Regions from separate parts of the Homo sapiens genome. Here regions 2, 3 and 4 are each linked to region 1. The links come from fine-mapping of genetic effects on gene expression. A gene starts in region 1. Each other region holds a variant in brackets. All regions are shown on one strand. Distances are between the middles of the regions.

The links. PIP is the estimated chance that this variant, and not a neighbour inherited with it, causes the effect. A credible set is the group of variants that fine-mapping cannot tell apart.
Region 2: its variant is the best candidate, but not a certain one, in a credible set for the expression of ACYP2 in stomach (GTEx, PIP 0.66).
Region 3: its variant is the best candidate, but not a certain one, in a credible set for the expression of ACYP2 in fibroblasts (GTEx, PIP 0.65).
Region 4: its variant is the best candidate, but not a certain one, in a credible set for the expression of ACYP2 in fibroblasts (GTEx, PIP 0.75).

Annotation. Positions count from the first base shown.
Region 1 is chr2:54,112,578-54,117,731 of GRCh38, reverse strand. It overlaps ACYP2 (acylphosphatase 2), which reads right to left and starts at 2,117. Exons shown (of 4, transcript NM_138448.4): 1 at 1,976-2,117. The coding sequence starts at 2,033. RefSeq lists silencers at 1,669-1,728, 2,219-2,288.
Region 2 is chr2:53,685,682-53,690,835 of GRCh38, reverse strand. The region is part of intron 9 of ASB3 (ankyrin repeat and SOCS box containing 3); the gene reads left to right. All of the region lies in intron 9 of GPR75-ASB3 (GPR75-ASB3 readthrough), which reads left to right. Among named protein-coding and RNA genes, the nearest start is that of CHAC2, 80 kb to the left of the region's middle. The variant C/A (reference allele first, on the strand shown) is at 2,662.
Region 3 is chr2:53,886,613-53,891,766 of GRCh38, reverse strand. It overlaps PSME4 (proteasome activator subunit 4), which reads left to right. Exons shown (of 47, transcript NM_014614.3): 37 at 1,559-1,663; 38 at 2,955-3,046; 39 at 3,778-3,909; 40 at 4,300-4,508. Among named protein-coding and RNA genes, the nearest start is that of GPR75-ASB3, 29 kb to the right of the region's middle. The variant A/G (reference allele first, on the strand shown) is at 2,555.
Region 4 is chr2:54,057,706-54,062,859 of GRCh38, reverse strand. It overlaps a transcript of ACYP2 not described here. Among named protein-coding and RNA genes, the nearest start is that of ACYP2, 55 kb to the left of the region's middle. The variant A/T (reference allele first, on the strand shown) is at 2,239.

The DNA.
Region 1 (5,154 bases):
TTTACCCATTCTTAATCTTACCCTGGTACACTGCACCAAAGTGTAAAAACCTCTAGAGTACCAAATACAAGGATAATTCAACTCTTCCACCAACCGAGGTTCCATAAACACCCCCAGTCTTCTCATTAATAAATTTCTGGCTGAGTGCAGTGGCTCACGCCTGTAATCCCATCACTTTGGGAGGCGAAGTGCAGGAGGATCCCTTGAAGCCAGGATTTCGAGACTTGCCTGGGCAACAGAGACCCTTTCTCTACAAAAAAATTTTAAAAATTAGTCATGCATGGTGGCATGAGCCTGTAGTCCCAGCTGCTTAGAAGGCTGAGGCAGAAGATCACTTGAGCCCAGGAGTTCCAGGCTGCAGTGAGCTATGATTGTGCCATTGCACTTGCTCCAGTCTGGGTGACAGAGCAAGACTCCATCTCTTAAAAAAATAAAATTAAAAAAATAAACTTCTAACACAAATTTACCTTTAAATTTTAATAATGTTTATCATACTTTTTATATTTTCATCTAGTGTTCTAATAATAATTTCAATAATAACTCCATCCAGACAAAAAATTTAATACTTGGAGCTGTTGAATACAATGAGTTCTAAATTTCTCTTCAAAGAATCAGTATGTCAGTATGCTCGGTTCTTTGCGCTCTAAAGTCTAGCTTCCTCGTTCTCCTCGCCTCTAGTTTCAGTAAACAACCTTTTCCACCAGTTCTAATCAGTAGTTCACCTCTATTCCTCTGGTCACCTGCTCCATCCTGAGTCACCCCTGGTCACCTGCTCTGACCTGAATCATCCTGAGTCACCTGTTCTGTAACCACCCTTCCTGCCAAATTATTCACCCCGCCACTTGAGCTCGTACGCCTGCTCTTTAAAATAGCCAGTCGGAATTAGCTTAGACTGTGCGGTCCAACCCTAGCCAGTAGGGGAAAGACACAGCAGTAGAGGCTACCTGCATCAGGAATAAGAACCCCTTCCCCTCCCCTGTTCAGGTGTGCCGTTGCCATTGCTTCATCCGCGAGTCGCACCCTTCTATAGAGGTAAAATTGCCTTGCTGAGAAAATTCTTTGAGCGCTAGTTCTTCTTTTTGGCACCAAAGAACCAGCATTTGTTTCTAAGAGAGCCTTATTGTCAAAGGAAATTAAGAAAAAGCATTACACTTATTCATACATGTGCATATATGTACATATACATATTGCAGAAAAGTATGATAGGGTGAGCAAAAAAAAAAAAAAAACCCTCAAGCAAAACAATGGGGTAATTCGGTGGGAAAAGTGAAATGAAAATCAAATTCAAAGAGGAAAAGAAATGAGTAAAATTTCCCATTGTTGAAGAGTTTTATTTTAAATGAAGATGGTGGATGTTAAATCACTACCCTATTTATATTCCATTGCATAAATCTCAGAGTGACTTAATATTTTCATTTATAAATATCAATATTTTCAACAAGCCAGACATTACAAACTTGGCAACTACTTAAACTTAGGATGAAACAAAAATTAGATAACAATTTCATTCTTTTAAGAGCTACAAAGAGGTCTAAAAAAAGGTTTGACCTCTGAAAAATTAACCTTAAACCATCTAAGTGTCCTTCCTAAAACTCAAGTCAAGCCCAGGTAGCTTCAGTGGCAAGCAACGAGACCACTAGTTAAAAGACCCTCTTCTTTTCCTACCCAACTTCAACATTCCCCCGTGCCGCTTACTCCCGCACCCAGCAGCCGCCCACTTCTGGTCCTCAGCAGTCCCCTGACCCCTCCTCTCCCGCTCCCCCACTTCCCTCCCCATTCCCGTACTTCCGCCCGTCCAAGTCCTCGGGCGCATGCGCGTTTCGCCTCCCTCCCCGCCGCCGCTGCTGTGTCATGGCGGAGCGGAAGTCCCAGCCACAACGGGAAAAGGCATACTTTAGGTGGGAGGCGCTTCTCACAGCTTTCTCCCCTTCCTCCCATAACCTTTTTGATCTCCCACCGTAGAGGGGCCTCCTACCCTGCACTCTTCCGAACACCTCGTAGTCCACGGATTTGAGTGACTGGGCGGTAGACATGGCGGCGGCGAGCCCTCTGTTGAGGAGCCGGAGAGGGGCTCGGGGCGCAGCGACTGCGGCGGCTGCGAGAGGGAGGGGACACATGGGACTGCTTGGCGCACCCCGCGCCTGTCACCGGTCCCGGACGCTAGCGCGCCGGGGTCACGCGTCGGAAGCGGCAAATGAGACTGCGGGGCCTGGGAGCGAGGGCAGCCGGGGACGCCAGGAGGGAAGAGGCCGCTGGGCCCCAGGCATCCTAGGCCTCTCTTCCCGGACTGGGGAGGATGCTGTCTCCACAGCGCTCCCTACCATTTAATTGATCAAGGTACTCTGTTCTCAAAGTTAGTAAATAAAAGCCGGATGCTGTGCCCAAAAAAAGAGTGGCTTCCCCCAGCTTTATTAAAGTGTAATTGACAAATAAAAGTTGGGTATATTTGTGGTGTACAAGGTGATGTTTTGACATATGTATGCATTGTGAAATGATTACATCAATGAAATTAACGTATCCATTGCACCATTTTTTAATGAAGAGAACATTTAAGATCTACTCTCATCAATTTTTAAGGACACAATACATTTATCGCAGTCACCATGTTAGACAACAGATCTTCAGAACTTATTATTCACACTAACTGAAACTTTGTACCCTTTGACCAATATCTCCCCATTTCCAACCCCTTTCATCCCCCATCCCAGGTCCCCCACCCCACTCCATCCCAGCAAGATTGGCTTTTGAAATCAAGGGCCTGCGTGTTTAGTGTTTTGAGAGTTAGTAAATTATTTATGAAATGTTTAGGTGACTACCAAGCCAGCTTTTAAGATAAGGTCTGCAACATCTTGAGCTCTTCTGTACAGTCAGGAAGGAATTGAGCCTGAACTCGTATTCTAAACGGATTGTGATATTTTCTGGGATAAGAAACTTTTTAAAAATATGAAGTCTTTTATGCTAGTGGAAACAGACAAAAGAAAAACACTGTAGTCATCTTGTCTGCTGTTCATACAGTTTTTTTGGTGTGGGTTTGTTGCTGTTGTTTTGAGACGGAGTTTCGCTCTTGTCTCCCAGACTGGAGTGCAGTAGTGCAATCTCAGCTCACAGCAGCCTCCACCTCCCAGGTTCAAGAAATTGTCCTGCCTCAGCCTTCCAAGTAGCTGGGATTACAGGCATGCGCCACCTCACCCAGCTAATTTTTGTATTTTTAGTGGAGACGGGGTTTCACCATGTTGTCCAGGCTAGTCTCAAACTCCTGACCTCAGGTGATCCACCTGCCTCGGCCTCCCAAAGTGCTGGGATTACAGGTGTGAGCCACCACACCCGACCTTTTTTTTTTTTTTTTTTTTTGATTGTCTTGATTATTCTCAGCAACATCCCAATTGCCTAGAAGGTTAAGGCTGAATTTTATTTCCTGGTGAGCTATTACCAAGTTTTAATATAAAACCATCCACCACTCCAAAGGATCTGGATACAGCTATTGATAATCTGCCACCTTCTAGAATTCCAAATCTGTTTACTTGTGAGAATTTGCATTTCTCTATTTGTTGGCCTCAATACCTTGGCATATTTCTCTGCATCTGGCCACACAGTTAAAATAATCCACTGCAATCTGATTCAATATACTGTGCCAATTCTATTAGAGAACACCAAAAATCATCCAAAACTTGGTTAGAATATGGTTAAATCATTTTTAAAGTAAAATATATTCTGGAAATGCTAGTGCAGTTAATTTATGTAGTGAAGGTCTTAGTTTATTGCAGAGACCTCGTAACTTAACTCTTCCATCTCCCAGTTCATTCCATGCAGACTCTAGAATCAACATAAATTTTAAATCATTCTTCTTAATACGTTCAAAATAGAACCTAAGGTCTTCAGCCTCCACTACCTGCTTATGCAAATCCTGCATTTAAACTATAGTCAAGACACTCTCGGTTATTCTGCTCTCTCAGTACAGAGGTTTAAAACAAAGAACCTCTTCTCTTGGGTCTACTCTATCTGGAATGCCTCCCCCTTCTCCAAAATCTTCCTCTATCCCGCTCAGTCATCTCTGCGAGTGGTTACCAGATTTTATCCTAGTTATTTAGTGTGCCTTCCCCACTAGTACAGTCAGCCATCCATATTAGCAGGTTCTGCATCCATAGATTCAACCAACCTCAAACAGAATTTTTTTTTTTAAGTATCTTGGCCTGCACGGTGGCTCACACCTGTAATCCCAACATGTTGGGAGGCCAAGGCTGGCGAACAGCTTGAGCCCAGGAGTTAGAGATGACCAGCCTGGACAATACAGTGAAGCCCCGCCTCTATAAAAAATACAAAAATTACCTGGCTGTGGTGGCCTGTGCCTGTAGTCCCAGCTACTTGGGAGGCTGAGGTGGGAGTAGGATCACTTTTGCCCAGGAGGCAGAGGTTGCAGTGAACCGAGATGGGGCCACTGCACTCCAGCCTGGGTGACAGAGCGAGACCCTGTCTCCAAAAAAAAAAAAAAAAGTCATCTCTACTGAACTCATGCAGACTCTTGTTTCTTGTCATCATTCCCTGAACAATACAGTATAATAGCATTTACATCGCATTAGGTATTTTAAATAATCTAGAGATGACTTAAAACATACAGGACAATATGTGTATGTATGTTTCTATTAGGAACTTGAACATTCCAGGATTTTTATATCCAAGGGGATTCCTGGAACCAATCCCCTGCAGATAACAACGGACAACTATAGCATAGCTTCTAAGTAGTCACTGACTGGGAAGGTTGACATTTTCCTTTTCTTAATCTTTGACTTTTCTCCACATTTACCCAAGAGTACCCCTGCCAATTATTAGGTAGGTTTATTTGAATTTTAGAAGTGCTATAGCAACAATTGACATTTGCTTAGCTGAAAAATTTGCTGTGTCTGCCAGCAGTCTAACATTAGCAAACGGAAATTTTTATGTACCATTTCGGCATGGATTGCCAATAATATGTGATTCTAAGTCTTTAGAAAATGTACGCAAATGTTTCTAATATATGTTTTAAGTAATTATAGTATGAATGCAACTTTTATTCTTCTTTTCCATGTTGTAGTCTTTCCAATGAATATTTTAATAAATCACATTAGGTGGATAAACCACACATTTACCTACTGTGAGTCCCTGTTGTTACATATTCAG
Region 2 (5,154 bases), 430 kb after region 1:
TTGATCTTTTTATTTCTGTGTTTCCCTGCTTTGTTTTGAAAAGGATTTAAAACAGTTTATATAATACATATATATTATCACAAAACAGTAAAACAGAAATTAAAAGTAGAAGGAAAAGAAAAACGAAAAAAAAAAGGTAGGAGATGGATAAAAAATGGAGTCAGGGAAAGCGTAGCAATGGGAATTTGATACTTGTCTGTTGATAGGCTGTACATTTGGCTCTGAGCTCTGTTGTCAATGACACTAGGTGACTGGGTTCATAAGATAAAATAAACCCATTCCTCAGAATAGATTTTCTTGGATGCTGTTACAGCTTCCTAGACAATGTCTTGGTAGCTGTGGTTTCTTGGGACTTTCTTTTACATGGACTGTTGTTATCATACCAAAGTACAATTCAGTAAAAGCAGTTCCTACGTAGTCATTACAGTGTGGTTCAGGTACCTAGACTTCTGTTGCTATGACTTGACCAAGAGCTAGATTTTAGAATATCTGTAAATGGATGGCCTGTGTGCCTTTTGAGCAGTTCTCTCTAAATATTGTATGTCTCAACTCAGTTTTTAATTTAATTAATTAATTAATTAATTTATTTATTTATTTGGGGGGACAGGGTCTTGTTCTGTTGACCAGGCTGGAGTGCAGTGGCATGATCATGGCTCACTGCAGCCTCTACCTCCTGGGCTCAAGCAATCTTCCCACCTCAGCCTCCCGAGTAGCTGGGATCATAGCCATGTGGCACCATGCCCAGCTAATTTTTGTATTTTTTGTTGAGACAGGGTTTCGCCATGTTACCCGGGCTGCTCTTGAACTCCTCCTGGGCTCAAGTGATCCTTCCACCTCAGCCTCCCAAAGTGCTGGTATTATAGGCATGAGACACTGTGCCTAGCTTCAGCTTAGTTTTTAGTAGTAGTACATAGCAATGAGTTCAAAGTTATACTACCTAAGAAGTATCAGAGTGCAGATATTTTGTATTGCAAATTGGATTGAGAACATATGTTTAAGTAACAGTTGATCTTCAAAGTAGAAGCAAAAGAAAAATGAAAAATGAAGGTTGATCTGTGGTAGGGTAAGTACTCCAGGAACATTATGAGGATTCCTAGCTAAATATGGTGGGCTAAGCAAGTATCCAGTTTAAGCAAAAATTTCCCTTGAAACTTTGAGCAATGCCCTAGTTTTGAGCAATGTTCTTTTCTCACATGCCCTTCAAGATAAATCATCTGTGGTAAGTACACCAAGGTAACTACATATGATAATTTATTTTATGAGATTGTTAGATGCAGAAACAAAGCTTAGGGTTAGGAATCATTGGTCTGTAATCCTTTCTGATAATAATGAACTAGCATTCCAGTTGTCTGCTAAAGCCATTTCTAGTTTAGGATAATAAAACCTATTAGTTTTTAAAAGAATATTTGTTTTTCTGTTTTCTTTAGCAAGAACATGTATCTTGCTCAGTTTATAACATATCATTAAGTCACTTGTTAAAAGATGAGAGTTGGAACACAACCTTATTTTATGCCAAAGAAAAATTTTAACTTTTCTGCTGACTTCAACCTTATGGTAATGCTCTGGTGCAGGTTCTGCATGAACAGCAGACAGAATATAATGGTTAAAGGTTGAAGCTCTAGAATTAAATAGACATGCCTCCATCACTTTCTCTTTTTTTTTTCCTTTGACTACCCAAATTTATTCATTTTAAACTTGACATGATTTATCTTTTTTAACTCTTAATATAGCACTAGACCCTCTTTAAAATTTCATGGAAATAAAGGATTTATGACATATTTAAAATTTACTGGCTAAAATTTTAAAAAAAATTTAGATCAATTTATTTTAGGCCATTGTAATCTGGTTTATATGGTCCTAGAGGGATAATTGTGTACCACAAATCCTTTTTCTTTTTTTTTTCTTACACTTTAAGTTCTGGGATACATGTGCAGGACGTGCAGGTGTGTTATGTAGGTATACACGTGCTCTGGTGGTTTGCTGCACCCATCAACGCATCTTCTACATTAGGTATTTCTCCTAATGCTATCCCTCCCCTAGCCCCCCACCTCCCAACAGGCCCCAGTGTGTGATGTTCCCCTCCCTGTGTGCATGTGTTCTCATTGTTCAACTCCCACTTATGAGTGAGAAAATGCAGTGTTTGGTTTTCTGTTCCTGTGTTAGTTTGCTGAGAGCCTCCATCACTTTCTAGCTATGGAGAAGTTACTTATATCCCTGAGCTTTGGTTTCCTCAATTATAAGAAGAGATGGTAATAGTAGCTACCTCATATCATTTTCACAATAGATCTTGTCATTGTGGCAAAGACAGACCTCAGTTAACTGAGTTCCGTTTCATTTTTATCTTCCCTGGAACAAAGAAAGACTGGATTTTTCAGCTTTGATTGTTACATGATTGAGGCAAGTGGTCAAAGCATAAACCATTGCATGTAAGCACTCTTTGCTCTCCCTTTCCTTGCTGAAGCAATTTGAAAGCTCATGTTTGAGATGGTGGTTACACAGGATGGTTGACACCTGGGACACTCAAGTGTCATTTTAGGAGAATTGCCTGACCTGCAGAGGATTTTGCATGAGCAAGAAGTAAACCTGTGTTGTATTAAGACACTGGTTTTTCGGGTTTATTTGTTAGCATAGCATAACCTAGCCTATAGCCAAGTTAACTTA[C/A]AACCAGATCCTATCCCAGAGTCAGTGACCAAGGAAAGGTCAATAAAAACAACAAATAGGCCAGGCGTGGTGGCTTACGCCTGTAATCCCACTTTGAGAGGCCGAGGTGGGAGGATTGCTTGAGGCCAGGAGTTCAAGACCAGTTGGGCAACATGGCAAGACCCCATCTCTACAAAATAAAATAAGAAAATTAGCCAGACATGGTGGTGAATGACTGTAGTCCCAGCTGCTTGGGGGAGGCATAGGCAGGAGGATCGCTTGAGCCCAGGAGATCAAGGCTGCAGTGAGCCGTGTTCATGCCATTGTACTCCAGCCTGGATGACAGAGCCTGATCCTGTCTCTTAAAAGATAAAAAAAGAGCTACAAATAATGGAGCAGTATATACTTGGTAAGAGTATTTATATGAGTGATCTATGGTGCAATAACTCACCACTTGCTCCTTATTTTAAACATTAATATGCAAAGCCCTAACTTACAGTTTTTAAAGGACATGTTCAATAAACTAAGTTTGGTGGGAAGTGGGGCAGTAGTGGGCCTTTTAAAATATATGGGTTAAACTGTGCAGTTTGTCTATCATGGGGGCCATGATCATAGAGTTAATAAAGCTAAATATTTAGTGAGAATCAGAGCCCATTCTTCACAGTAGTTCTTAACTCTAGATTCATTTCCTCTGGATGTTTTTCACCTGGGTGAGGCAGTATTACTAAGATCTCAATCAGTAATTGCCTGTTATCTTAAAAAACTGGACACATGACCTTTCATTTGTTGAGCTGGAAACTTTCAACCTCCCAGACACCAGCCATGTGTGGACCTTCACAAGTTTAGCAGATTCGTGCCTTGGTTAACATTGCCTACATTCTACCTTATTTCTAGATTTAAGAGCCAGACTGGGATTTTTGTTTTTGTTTTTGTTTTTTTTTTAGCGAGAAATTTATAGTTAAACTTGACATTTTAACAGGGTTCCAACTGCCCACTTACAATTTTAACTTCACATAGCCTCTTGTTAATCCAAGTTTTTTGGGTTTTGTTTTTGTGGGGAAATTCTTATTAAACTAGATACTAATGGGTTGTACTCACATTTGCTGGGACATTTTGCTGTTAAAACTATTTTAAAGTTATCAGCATGTCTGTTGGTACGTTAAGAAAGGAGCAATTGGCCAGGCGCCATGGCTCATGCCTGTAATCCCAGTACTTTGGGAGGCCAAGGCAGGCGGATCACCTGAGGTTGGGAGTTCGAGACCAGCCTGACAAACATGGAGAAACCTGTCTCTACTGAAAATACAAAATTAGCCGGGTGTGGTGGCAAGCGCCTGTAATCCCAGCTACTCGGGAGGCTGAGGCAGGAGAATCGCTTGATTCTCCTGCAGGAGGTGGAGGTTGCAGTGAGCCGAGATTGTGCCATTGCACTCCAGCCCGGGCAACAAGAATGAAACTCTGTCTCTCTCAGAAAATAAATAAATAAATAAATAAGGAGAAATTATGGCCTTAGAGTAAACAGAGGTGTTTTTTTTTACATGTTCTAAGTATGAGATCACCAGTATTGGTTTGAAAGCCCGTCCCACTCTTTCCACATAACTACTTTATTTATTCACTGTAGGATATTTACTAGGTTCCTGTCTAAAATAAGTATTATGAAAAAGCTAGTGTTAAATATCATCTAGCTTCTTAGGGAACTGAACAAGATTAGAAGGAAAGGTTTCTTGTAGCTGCTTAGATGACAGCTCCCTTGAACATGAAAAAATTAAAGGTGACCAATATATAAAAGGCACAAAACCGTGGCTCTGAGGAGGGTGTTGGGGGCAGTGGGTGAAAAATTGTTAAGGGGTTAATGCAGAGTTCATGGTCCTTGGTTTGAAAATGAGATATACTTTTATTTTCTCTATGATTTGTCTTTCATGGTTGGCCTGAATTACAGAATTTAGAACCTTAAAAATTAAAATAACCATCCAGAAGTAGAACTGACCCAATCACGAGAGCTCTCATTTTGCCCAAGTTTCCTGTTGGTTCTCAAGATGATCAAAGGAAGCTATAGAGAGTAGCACTTCAAGAGGCTTCTTCCATGATACTTCAGAAAGGGAAGGGGAGCAGAATCATGTGATAATAACGCGGCTTTAAAAAGGCTATTGTAAAGGTAGCACCAGAACCTCACTTCTGCATCCCTCTTGCCTCTTCTATCTGTCATGACCCTTTTTAAGGGAGTTCCCATGTGACAGTTCCATACAGGATCAGCCCAAGGCACTGGATGAAGCTTCTAAGAACAGATCATTTGTATCTATTGGAGATTGTGGAATTTTAAGACCCACCATTTCTTACATAAAGAAGGACTAGATTGTGTGAAATGTCAGCCAATGCCCTTTCTCCAGGTTAAATGTGTGATCTGCTCTAGAGTGTGTGATTTTGGGGAAAATTCTTTGTAACATGGTTCATGTTTTTTGGATAGAGATTCATAGTTGGTGCAGAATTCATCTGGAGGAGACAAAGAATTAGCAGATG
Region 3 (5,154 bases), 230 kb after region 1:
TGCCTCAGCCACCTTCAGTAGCTGGGATTACAGGCATGCGCCACCTTGTCAGGCTAATTTTTGTATTTTTAATAGAGGCAGGGTTTCTCCATGTGGCCAGGCTGGTCTCGAACTCCTGGCTCTTGAACTCCACCTACCTTGGCCTCCCAAAGTGCTGGGATTACAGGTGTGAGCTACTGTGCCTGGCCTTCATTCATTCTTTTAAAAAAAAAAATTCAAAATTTTTTTAGGAACTTAAAAAATTAATAATAGTAACTGTTCATGTTTATGGGGTACATGTGATATTTTGATACATGCACACAATGTGTAATGATGAAATCAAGGTATATCCTTTTTAACTAAAATACAGTCCATGGACCTGCAGCAGGGGTAGCACTTGGAAGCTTTTTAGGAAAGTAAGATCTCAGGCCCACTTGACATGAATCAATCTGCATTTTATCAAGACCTCAAGGTGATTTGTATGCTCATTAACCTATGAGAAAATCTATGTGTGTAAATGCAGTCTCTGTACGACGTACATGTTTTTATGGGCTATTTATCCAAGACTTGGAATTTGAAGATTATATCTCAGGCTGATTACTAAATTAAATTAAAATGTCATTGCCTCTTTAAGGTTTAATCAAATGATCTTGATAAACATGGAAAACTTGATTGAGGTTTTGTTTCAGCCTAGCGTACTATTATACAAGATTTTTAAGAACACATCAGTCATATGAGAGATTTGTTTTGTTTTGTTTTTTTAGACGGAGTCTTGCTCCGTTGCTTAGGCTGGAATGCAGTGGGATGATCTCGGCTCACTGCAACCTCTGCCTCCCAGGTTCAAGCAATTCTCCTGCCTCAGCCTCCCGAGTAGTTGGGATTACAGGCATGTGCCACTACGCTCAGCTAATCTTTATTTTTTTTGTAGAGACATGGTTTCGCCATGTGACCAGCTTGATCTTGAACTCCTGATTTCAAGTGATCCTCCTGCCTTGGCCTCCCAAAGTTCTCGGATTACAGGCAGGAGCCACTGCACCCAGCCAAGAGATACTTTTTAAAGCGCCATGCAAAGTATTTACTCTTTTCTGAATATTTTTTGGGAAAAAATTTCACCTATACCTGGATATGTATGGTGATAATGTACTTTGCTGGATTATTTGGGTGCTCTAAAAAATAATTAGGGCCAGGCATGCTAGCTCATGCCTATAATTCCAGCACTTTGGGAGGCCAAGGTGAGAGGATTGCTTGAGGCTAGGAGTTCAAGACCAGCCTGGGCAACATAGCAAGATCCTGTTTTTACAAAACATAAAAAATATTTCAGGGCATAGTGGCACACACCTATAGTCCATGCTCCTTGGAAGGCTGAAGCGAGTGGATCACTTGAGCTCAGAAGCCTAAGGCTACATCGAGGTATGATCATTCCACTGCACTCCAGCCTGGGCAATAGCATGAGACCATGTCTCAAAAATAATTTAAATGATATACCTGTATGTGTGTACATTTCCAGGTAAAGAAAGATATTTGAAGAAAAATGTTCTGAGTGTCATTAACTCTTACCCATATATTTTGTTTTGAGTAGGTGGAGAAGCTTTGGGAGCTTCTGTGCCCTCTGCTTAGAACAGCACTGTCCAATATTACCGTAGAAACTTATAATGACTGGGGAGCTTGTATAGCAACATCCTGTGTAAGTTACCCTACATCTTTCTTTGTCTAACTGATCTATTCAAACTGTTTGATACTGTCTCTCAAAGTGTGTGAAATCTCATAACACTTCTTAAATCTTTTTGGGTTTTGTTTTTTAATTGTTTTTATTTTTTATTTCCATGGGATTAGAGACTATTATTCTAAGTGAGGTAACTCACTTCTTGAATCTTGAAAGTTTGTTCATACTTTTGTCATCTTATGTAATTGGAGATGGCTCTATTCAGCCTTTCAAATAAGTCTTGAGAAGTAACTCTTAAGTGATTATTATATCTTCTCTGCTGTGGTAATGCATTTTAAAATTAAGTGACAGTCATGTATTTGGAAATGTCACTTACATATAGTAAAAGCCACATAATACAAAGTTATAGGTATTATTTTTTATACCAGATATGTCCATAGCTCGTGTACTTTGATTGAAGATAATCCATTTAGCTAACAACAGCTTTCTCACTGTTAACTTGAACTGCGATAGTCACATTTGAGTTTGAGTCACCTATCAGTTTTAGTTTGATTTTCTTCTCCTGTACAGTCAGCCCTCCATATCCATGAGTTCCACATCTGTGGTTTCAGCCAACCTGAGGAGATGGAGAATATTTCAGAAGGGGGTGGGGGGATGGTTGTGTCTATAGTGAACCTGTTCAGATTTTTTTTTTCTTGTCATTATTCCCTAAACAATACAGTATAACAGCTATTTACATAGCATTTACATTGTATTAGGTATTACAAATACTCTAGAGAAGATTTAAAGTGTACAGGAGGATGTGCATAGGTTATATGTAAATACTACACCATTTTCATAACAGACTTGAACATCTGTGGATTTTGGTATCCTAAGGGAGTTCTGGAACCAATCCACCACAGATACCAAGGG[A/G]CGACTATACTTATATATGTTTTCAGTATTTCTAAAATAATTGAATATGGCTGGGTGCACTAGCTCTCAACTTTAATCGCAGAACTTTGGGAGGCCGAGGCAGGAAGATAGCTTGGGGCCAGGAGTTGGAGACCAGCCTGGGCAACGTAGGGAGACTCTGTCTCTACAAAAAATAAAAAATTAGCCAGGCATAGTGGCGCATGCCTGTGGTCCCAGCTACTTGAGAGACCGAGGCGGGTGGATTACTTGAGCCTGGGAGGCAATCATACCACTTCACTCCAGCCTGGGCAACAGAGTTAGACCTAGCCTCAAAAATAAAATTAAATTAAATAACTGAGTATGATTTGTTTACAGAATTGTAGGTTCTCTGTTGAACTGTTACATCATATTTTAAACACAGGAAAGCAGAGATCCCCGGAAACTTCACTGGCTTTTTGAACTGCTGTTGGAATCACCATTGAGTGGTGAAGGAGGATCCTTTGTAGATGCATGGTAAATTTTTTTAAAAAACCTATGAGGTTAACACGAAAGGTTTTGTGTTAACTTATGTATAAATGGAAATGAATGGTCTATACTTGTAAAGTCTAGATGAAGTAATTACTTTCTTCTGGAAGGTGATGTGATCTGGTTCCATATAACATGTGATACTTAATAAGAGTTATTTATTAGTTGGACAAGTAAGTGAGATGTAGGCAACCTGAGCAATTTAAACACAAATTAGAGTCAGCATTCTTTGCTGTCAAATATTTTATCAGAATTGTCTTTTGTACTTTTGTGTCTTCATCACATCTTATTTTTCACTTTTTCCTGTTAAAAAGATACAAAGAAAGAGTAATCATTTCAAGGAAAAACTGCCTTGTTTGGGGCATATGGTGCTGTAGAAAGTTAGACAATAGTAATATGGATAATTTCATTAAAAAGAAGAAGCACTTAATTAATGAGAAAACTTGAATTGTGATGTTTAAATATTAGTCAGTGAGTATTCTTAAGTCAGTATTTCTTTCAGTTTTCTAGTAGTGTGGATGAAATGCAAATACAGAGAAAATGATATAGGAAAAATAAAATCTTCATAAAGAGGCTATTTTGAGTTGTGGATATTGTAGTATTTATTAAGTGAAAAAACGAAAAAGCTTTAAGTGAAATACAGATATTGTCTGTCCATACTGTCAATATGTAAAGGCAGAAAGGGCCTCCAATATAACACTACGATGCTTTAATTTTAGTCGACTTTATGTACTACAAGGTGGCCTTGCCCAGCAAGAATGGAGAGTGCCTGAACTATTGCACAGACTACTGAAGTACTTGGAACCCAAACTCACCCAGGTTTACAAAAATGTCAGAGAAAGAATAGGAAGGTAGGTACTGTTTTCTCTGTGGTGTACCTCTCGAGTTCTTTGTTTGTTTTTTTTTAAATTGTAATAGGTAATAATACATGCTGGTTATGTTGTCAGTGGGTTTCATGGTGTCTTTCTCAAATTGTTTGCTATTGTGTCGTGGGAAACAAGATGAAACACTCTGAATGTAAACTAGGACAGCAGTGTGCTCAGAAGCCAGAGATGAGCAGTCACAACACCTAAGTGTTAATACCCCTTAATTATAAGGCTTCTTTTACACACAGGCATAATCTAAGACCCACTCCAGGAATTGTCTTGGGACAGTTTACTTTGATTGGGTCATAACTTTTGAACCTCATTTTTATTTATAATGTGGCACCTCTTCCTATTATTAAGTATTTTATTTTGCAGTGTGCTGACCTACATATTCATGATAGATGTATCTTTGCCAAATACCACACCAACCATATCGCCTCATGTCCCTGAGTTTACTGCTCGAATTCTGGAGAAATTGAAACCTCTCATGGATGTGGATGAAGAAATTCAGAACCATGTTATGGAAGAAAATGGAATTGGTGAAGAAGATGAGCGAACTCAGGGCATTAAACTCTTGAAAACCAGTGAGTGGATAAAATTAGTAGAAACTCAGTTGAAAACATCTATTTGATTATCCTGTAGAGTTTTTTGCACCACTTTTTTTATTGTGGTAAAATAGACATAATGAAAAATTTACTGTTTTAACCATTTTTAAGTGTACAGTTCAGTGGCATTAAGTACATTCACATCCTTGCGCAACCATCATCACCATTTATCTCTAGAATCCTCTTCATCATACGAAACTGAAACTTTGTACCCTTTAACAACAGCTCCTCATTTTCCCTCCCCTCATCCTTTATAACCACTGTCTACTTTCCATCTCTGAATTTGCCCATTCTAGGTAGGTCACATAAGTTGAATCATAAGTCTTTTTTGTGTCTGGCTTATTTCATGTTACATAGTATTTTCAAGTTGAATGAATGAATTTCTGAATCATGTTGTGTCCTTAATCTGTTACCCATTCATCTGTTTGCTGGATATTTGGGTTTCCACCTTTGGCTATTGTGACTAATGCTGCTCTGAACATTGATGTTTGTATAAGTACCTGTTTGAGTTCCTGCTTTCAGTTCTTTAGGGTATGTACCTAGAAGTGGAATTGTTAGACCATGTAGTATTTCTGTGCTTAAGTTTTTGAAGAGCTGCCAGACTCTTCTCTGCAGCAGCTGCACC
Region 4 (5,154 bases), 55 kb after region 1:
TTTTTTGTTCATCCAATAAAATGTGCTTCAACTGCAAAATCTCTGTGACCTTGCCTAAAGTGAGCTAAAATTCTACGAGTTTACTTTTATTTTGCCCAAAATTTATCTTGCTAAGTTAACTTTTCTAGGTAATTTGTTGAGAGCTCATTCTATGGTATACATGTAGAAAGCTAACTTAATCAGGCTTCATGATAACCAGAAAGTCTAAACCATAATGCACAGCAGACATTCCAGTTTAAAACTCTTTGCCTTTGTGCTATATTAAAATGTGCCTTGAAACAGGCATGATGCCATATGATGAATAACATATGGTACATGACAGTCCCTATTCATATGGAAAATATGTTAATGATATCCTATATAGGAAGTAAAAGTGGAACCAGATTTATTTTTCTATATAGGTTGATCTGGTCTCAGCAACTAAAAATACTTATTTTCAATGTCACAGTGGAAATGAGATGGAGGCTGAATAGAGATGGCTGGTATGTGAGGTCACTTACAAAATAATCTACCAGATAAAAACAGGTGTATGATTGGGGAGGTCAGACTCAAAGTAATGTTGAGGGCAAATAGGAGATGTTTAGAGAAGCCCCTGAGCCGTAGCAAGGGAGTCGTTCAAGCCCAAGCTCTACCCCAGGTCCAGAGAACCCATGCCTTCCTGTGAGAAACAGACTCTGTAACCCCCAGATGTTACTCCCTCAAGCCTTGTGGAATGTGCTTATTTTTTCTGGCTAGAGCTCTATGAGACCCAATGCCCCCTTTTAATAACAATAGTTTGTAATATCTCCTTTACTTTCCTGAAATGGAATTCAGAGGCAATGCAACTTACGCAAAACACTTTAAAGCCAATATAATGATCTAACTATGTAAGATATTAATAAAATACATTTACAGGCCTGGCACAGTTGTTCACATCTGTAATCTGCGCCCTGTTAAGTTTTTATTTTTTATAGAGGCAGGGTCTCATTACGTTGCCTAGGGTAGTCACAAACTCTTGGGCTCAAGCAATCCTCCCACCTTGCCCTCTCAAAATGACGGGACTACAGCCTTGAGCCACCATGTCCAGACCAGACCTTGATTTTATAGTTCTGACATCCAGAATTATAAGAAAATAAATGTGTTGTATTACATCACTCTGCTTGTGGCCATTTGTTACAGCAGCTGTAGGAAACTAACATGCATGGTAACTGATTATTTTCTAAGCCTGATTCTAAAACCTTCTCATAAATTTCATGAACTAACCAATAGGCTCCCATTAAAACCCTTTTATGCTAAAGCCAATCAGAGTTGGTTTCTAGTATGTCCAACAAAGGACCCAGGCTGGTACAATTATAGACCAGCCCTCTAAGGTTCACCAGTAAGAAAACAACATCATCAGCAACTTTAGTCTCTGTTCAGGAGTCATACTCCCATGAGAGTGAAACTAATTTTCCAGATTAGAGCACGTGTCCACCTCTGTGGTCAGAGGGCTGATGTCTGGTGGGCAGCCCCACCAGAACCACACAAATTGGGGAAGGGGAAGTTTGCTCAAAGTAATGAATTAAGTGTTTTTACCAGGAAGGAGGAAAATAACCCCAGCAAGTCAAAACCAACATATTTTTAATAATGTAATATTTCTAAGACATAAAAGTCATCTTCATATCCAAAAGTTGGATTGCCAAAATAAAAAACCAATAAGGAACTTCCAGCTAAATATGGCAGATTGGCCAGACATGGTGGCTTGTGCCTGTAATCCCAGCACTTTGGGAGGCCAAGGCATGAGGATCACTTGAGCCCACAAGTTCAAGACCAAGCCTGGGTAATATAGGGAGACCATGCCTCTATGAAAAAATAATTAATTAATTAAAATATATATGGCAGATAAATTAAATGTGTTTGTCTTCTCTTTTTTTCTGAAATTTCATCTAAAAATGGTATAAAACATAAGGGCAGGTAGGAAATGAATATCAGCAGACAAAAAAAAACAAGTATTTGAAAGCTAGGATACAAATGAAAGAATGGTAAATAACGTTACCAAGCAAAAGAAGCTAAAATCTGTTTTCAAAGCAGTGGATCCCAAGAAGCAGCCAAGCACTTTACTCTGCAGGCATTCAAAAAGGCTGAGGACTTAGAAGCATTTGAGAACATCCTGTGCATAAAAAGCAGCATTTCATGCCTTATGACTACACATGGGTGGCTAGAGAATCTGATAAAATTCTATCATACCAAAATAAAATGTATTTGGGCAAATAAATTAGT[A/T]GAACCTACTTACCTCTGCAGAAAATTAATAAATTAGGTTATTAAAAGTAGAAATAGATAACTAAGATTATAAGATATTTGAGGAAAGCCTCCAACCTCAACAATAAATCCCAGAAGAAACAAAGACAGTAAAAGGAACAAAACAAAACTTTACTAAAATTATAATTGAATCATTGGAGAGATCAAAAAACATTATATCCATAAAAGAAGATGATTATTTTTTAAAAAGGAATAATCAGAACAAGAATAAGTTTATAGAAATTAAAAATATGGCCATGAAACAAAAAAAGTCAATAAAAGTATTAGAAGATAAAAGCAAACGAATCTAGAAAGTAAACTCAAAAGATAAAAAAGATAGCCAAAAAGAGAGAAAAAAATAAGATGCTTAAATATTCATTCCAGGATGTGCAACATCTGACTCATAGGATTTTCAGAAAAAGAAAACAGAGAGATGAATAAACTGATGGGAAGAAATCCTCAAATAAATCCAAGAAGAAAATATCCCAGAGTTGAAGTAATTCAATTTAGACATACAATTTCAGATTGGAAGGTCCCATTAAGTGCTCAGCCCAATGAATTAAAAAAGACTTACACCAAGTCACAGTATGGAATTTCAGGAAACTAAGAAAAAACTTGGAATTGCTAGAGGACTGGGGATGGGAGGCAAGCACATTAAAAGAATGTGGAATCAGAATGGGCATCAAACTTGCTGGTAGCAACTGAGTTCAGAAGACAATGAAGCAATCCTTTCCCAGTTCTAACAGGAAGTTATTTTCATCCTAGAACTCTATTCATATCCTTAAGTAACAAACAACTGTGCAGGTAAACATACAAGGCATCCATGCACTCTTGCTCACCCTACTGAAGGATGAGTCCCAGCACAATTGTTACCAATGGAGTGACCTAACCAAAATAAAACAAAACAAAAGAAATGGAAGATGGAAAACAGGGAATGTCCTGGGATGACAATCAAGACAGCAACCAGTCCAGACAGGATCAGGAAGACAGAGACCACAAATAGATTATCTGAAATGTTGAATGTAGTATTAGTCAGCATCTGAAAATCTAACGAAACATTTGGTTGAATTGATAGAAAAATAATAAGATGCTCGCCGTGCATGGTGGCTGACACCTGTAATCCCAGCACTTTGGGAGGCCAAAAAGGGTGGATCACCTGAGGTCACGACCAGCCTGGCCAACATGGTGAAACCCTATCTCTACTAAAAATACAAAAAATTAGCCAGGCATGGTTGCAGGCGCCTGTAATCCCAGCTTTTCCAGAGGCTGAGTCAGGAGAATCACTTGAACCTGGGAGGTGGAGGTTGCAGTGGGCCAAGATTGAGCCATTGCACTCCAGCCCGGGCAACAAGAGCAAAATTCCAACTCAAAAGAAAAAAAAGAAAAAGAAAAAGAAAGAAAGAAAGAAAAATGATAAGATGGAAAGCTAGGCAATTCTTAACTCAAAAGAAAGAAAACAAAAGGTTGTGATACAGCAGGAACATCACCATCTTGGACAAACCCCTCATTCTAAAGTTCACCTTAATAAAAAACTGCCTAAATCCAAAGGGCATCAGCCTAATGGCTTAGGCCAGCATGACCATAAACCACAAATAACATCTCCAACCAGAAACTTTCCAAACCCCTCCGTGACCAGAGACATGCTAGCCATGAGATAACCCACCTCCAGTGGGGAAGATACCAGCCTTGAGATAACCCCCATCTGGGTGGAAAGATGTCTGCCCCAAGATAAACATCCCTCCTCCCAGAGACATTCCAACCCCACCATAAAACTTCTCCCTCACACAGAAACATTCCAAGCTTATAATAAGCCCCTTCACCCTAAGACCAATATATACTCCAATATATAGTCTGTAAGAGAAAGTGCTCCTGACCAAAAAAAAAAAAAAAAAAATTATCAGCCAGAAGCCCCTCTCATGTTTTATCTAAAGTAAACCTGTCTTAACTGCCAAGCCACATTTTGTGTTTCTTTCCTCTTTCTTTAACTCTTACAGGTGGTACAATGAAGGATAAGTAGTCAAAGTACAATACTTGGGTTACCAATGACCAACACTGACATCATAATGTAAATACTCGATATTGAATTAACTAGAAATGAAGTTAGAATTATATTAGAATGACAGGAGAGGGAAATATGTGTGTGTCAGGGGTTAATAGATAATATCTAAAATTTGTAAATGAAGACATAGGTGTATAATGATAGGCATTTTATATCAGGAAAAACTACTGAAGATTTAAAAGCCCCTGGGAAGCACAGCTGAGGGGAGGGAGAAGGTACTGCTTTTTTTTTTTTTAATATAAGCTTTGTAGTACTATTTAATATTGTATATAGCTTTGTACTACTTTGATAAAACAAACTGATAACCCTGCCCCCAAAAAGAACCAATGAGAATAAGTCCAGAGCTTATTCACATTTTAGCTTGTATCATGCGTTAACACCAACACTCCATTTAATGTGAATTATCTTCAAAGACCCAATATTTACTAAATTTAGGAAGAGACCAATCATTGCTTCATATGCCCTACCTCCCTCAGGGACCAATACTTGAATTTTCAAAGCATTATTCACAAAGGGAAAAATATTTTCTCCTATTTTCTATGTGTGATAAGTGAATATCCCAAAGCATGAAATATGAATTTAAAATATTTGTTTTCCAAATGTTCATTGATTCTTTACATTTACTACACCACATCTGTTTGGCATTTAATAACCAAATCAAAAGCCTCTCTTCCTCTGCTCTGCCTTAGCCACTCAATCCCCTCTCAAATGGTGACCTCATTACATCACCCAGGGCCTTCCCTGCTTTGACTCCTCATTTGAGTAATTCCCACATTCACCTTACAAACTGCCAAATATTCAGTATCCTATAAACAACAGTATTATATATATTTTTGCTA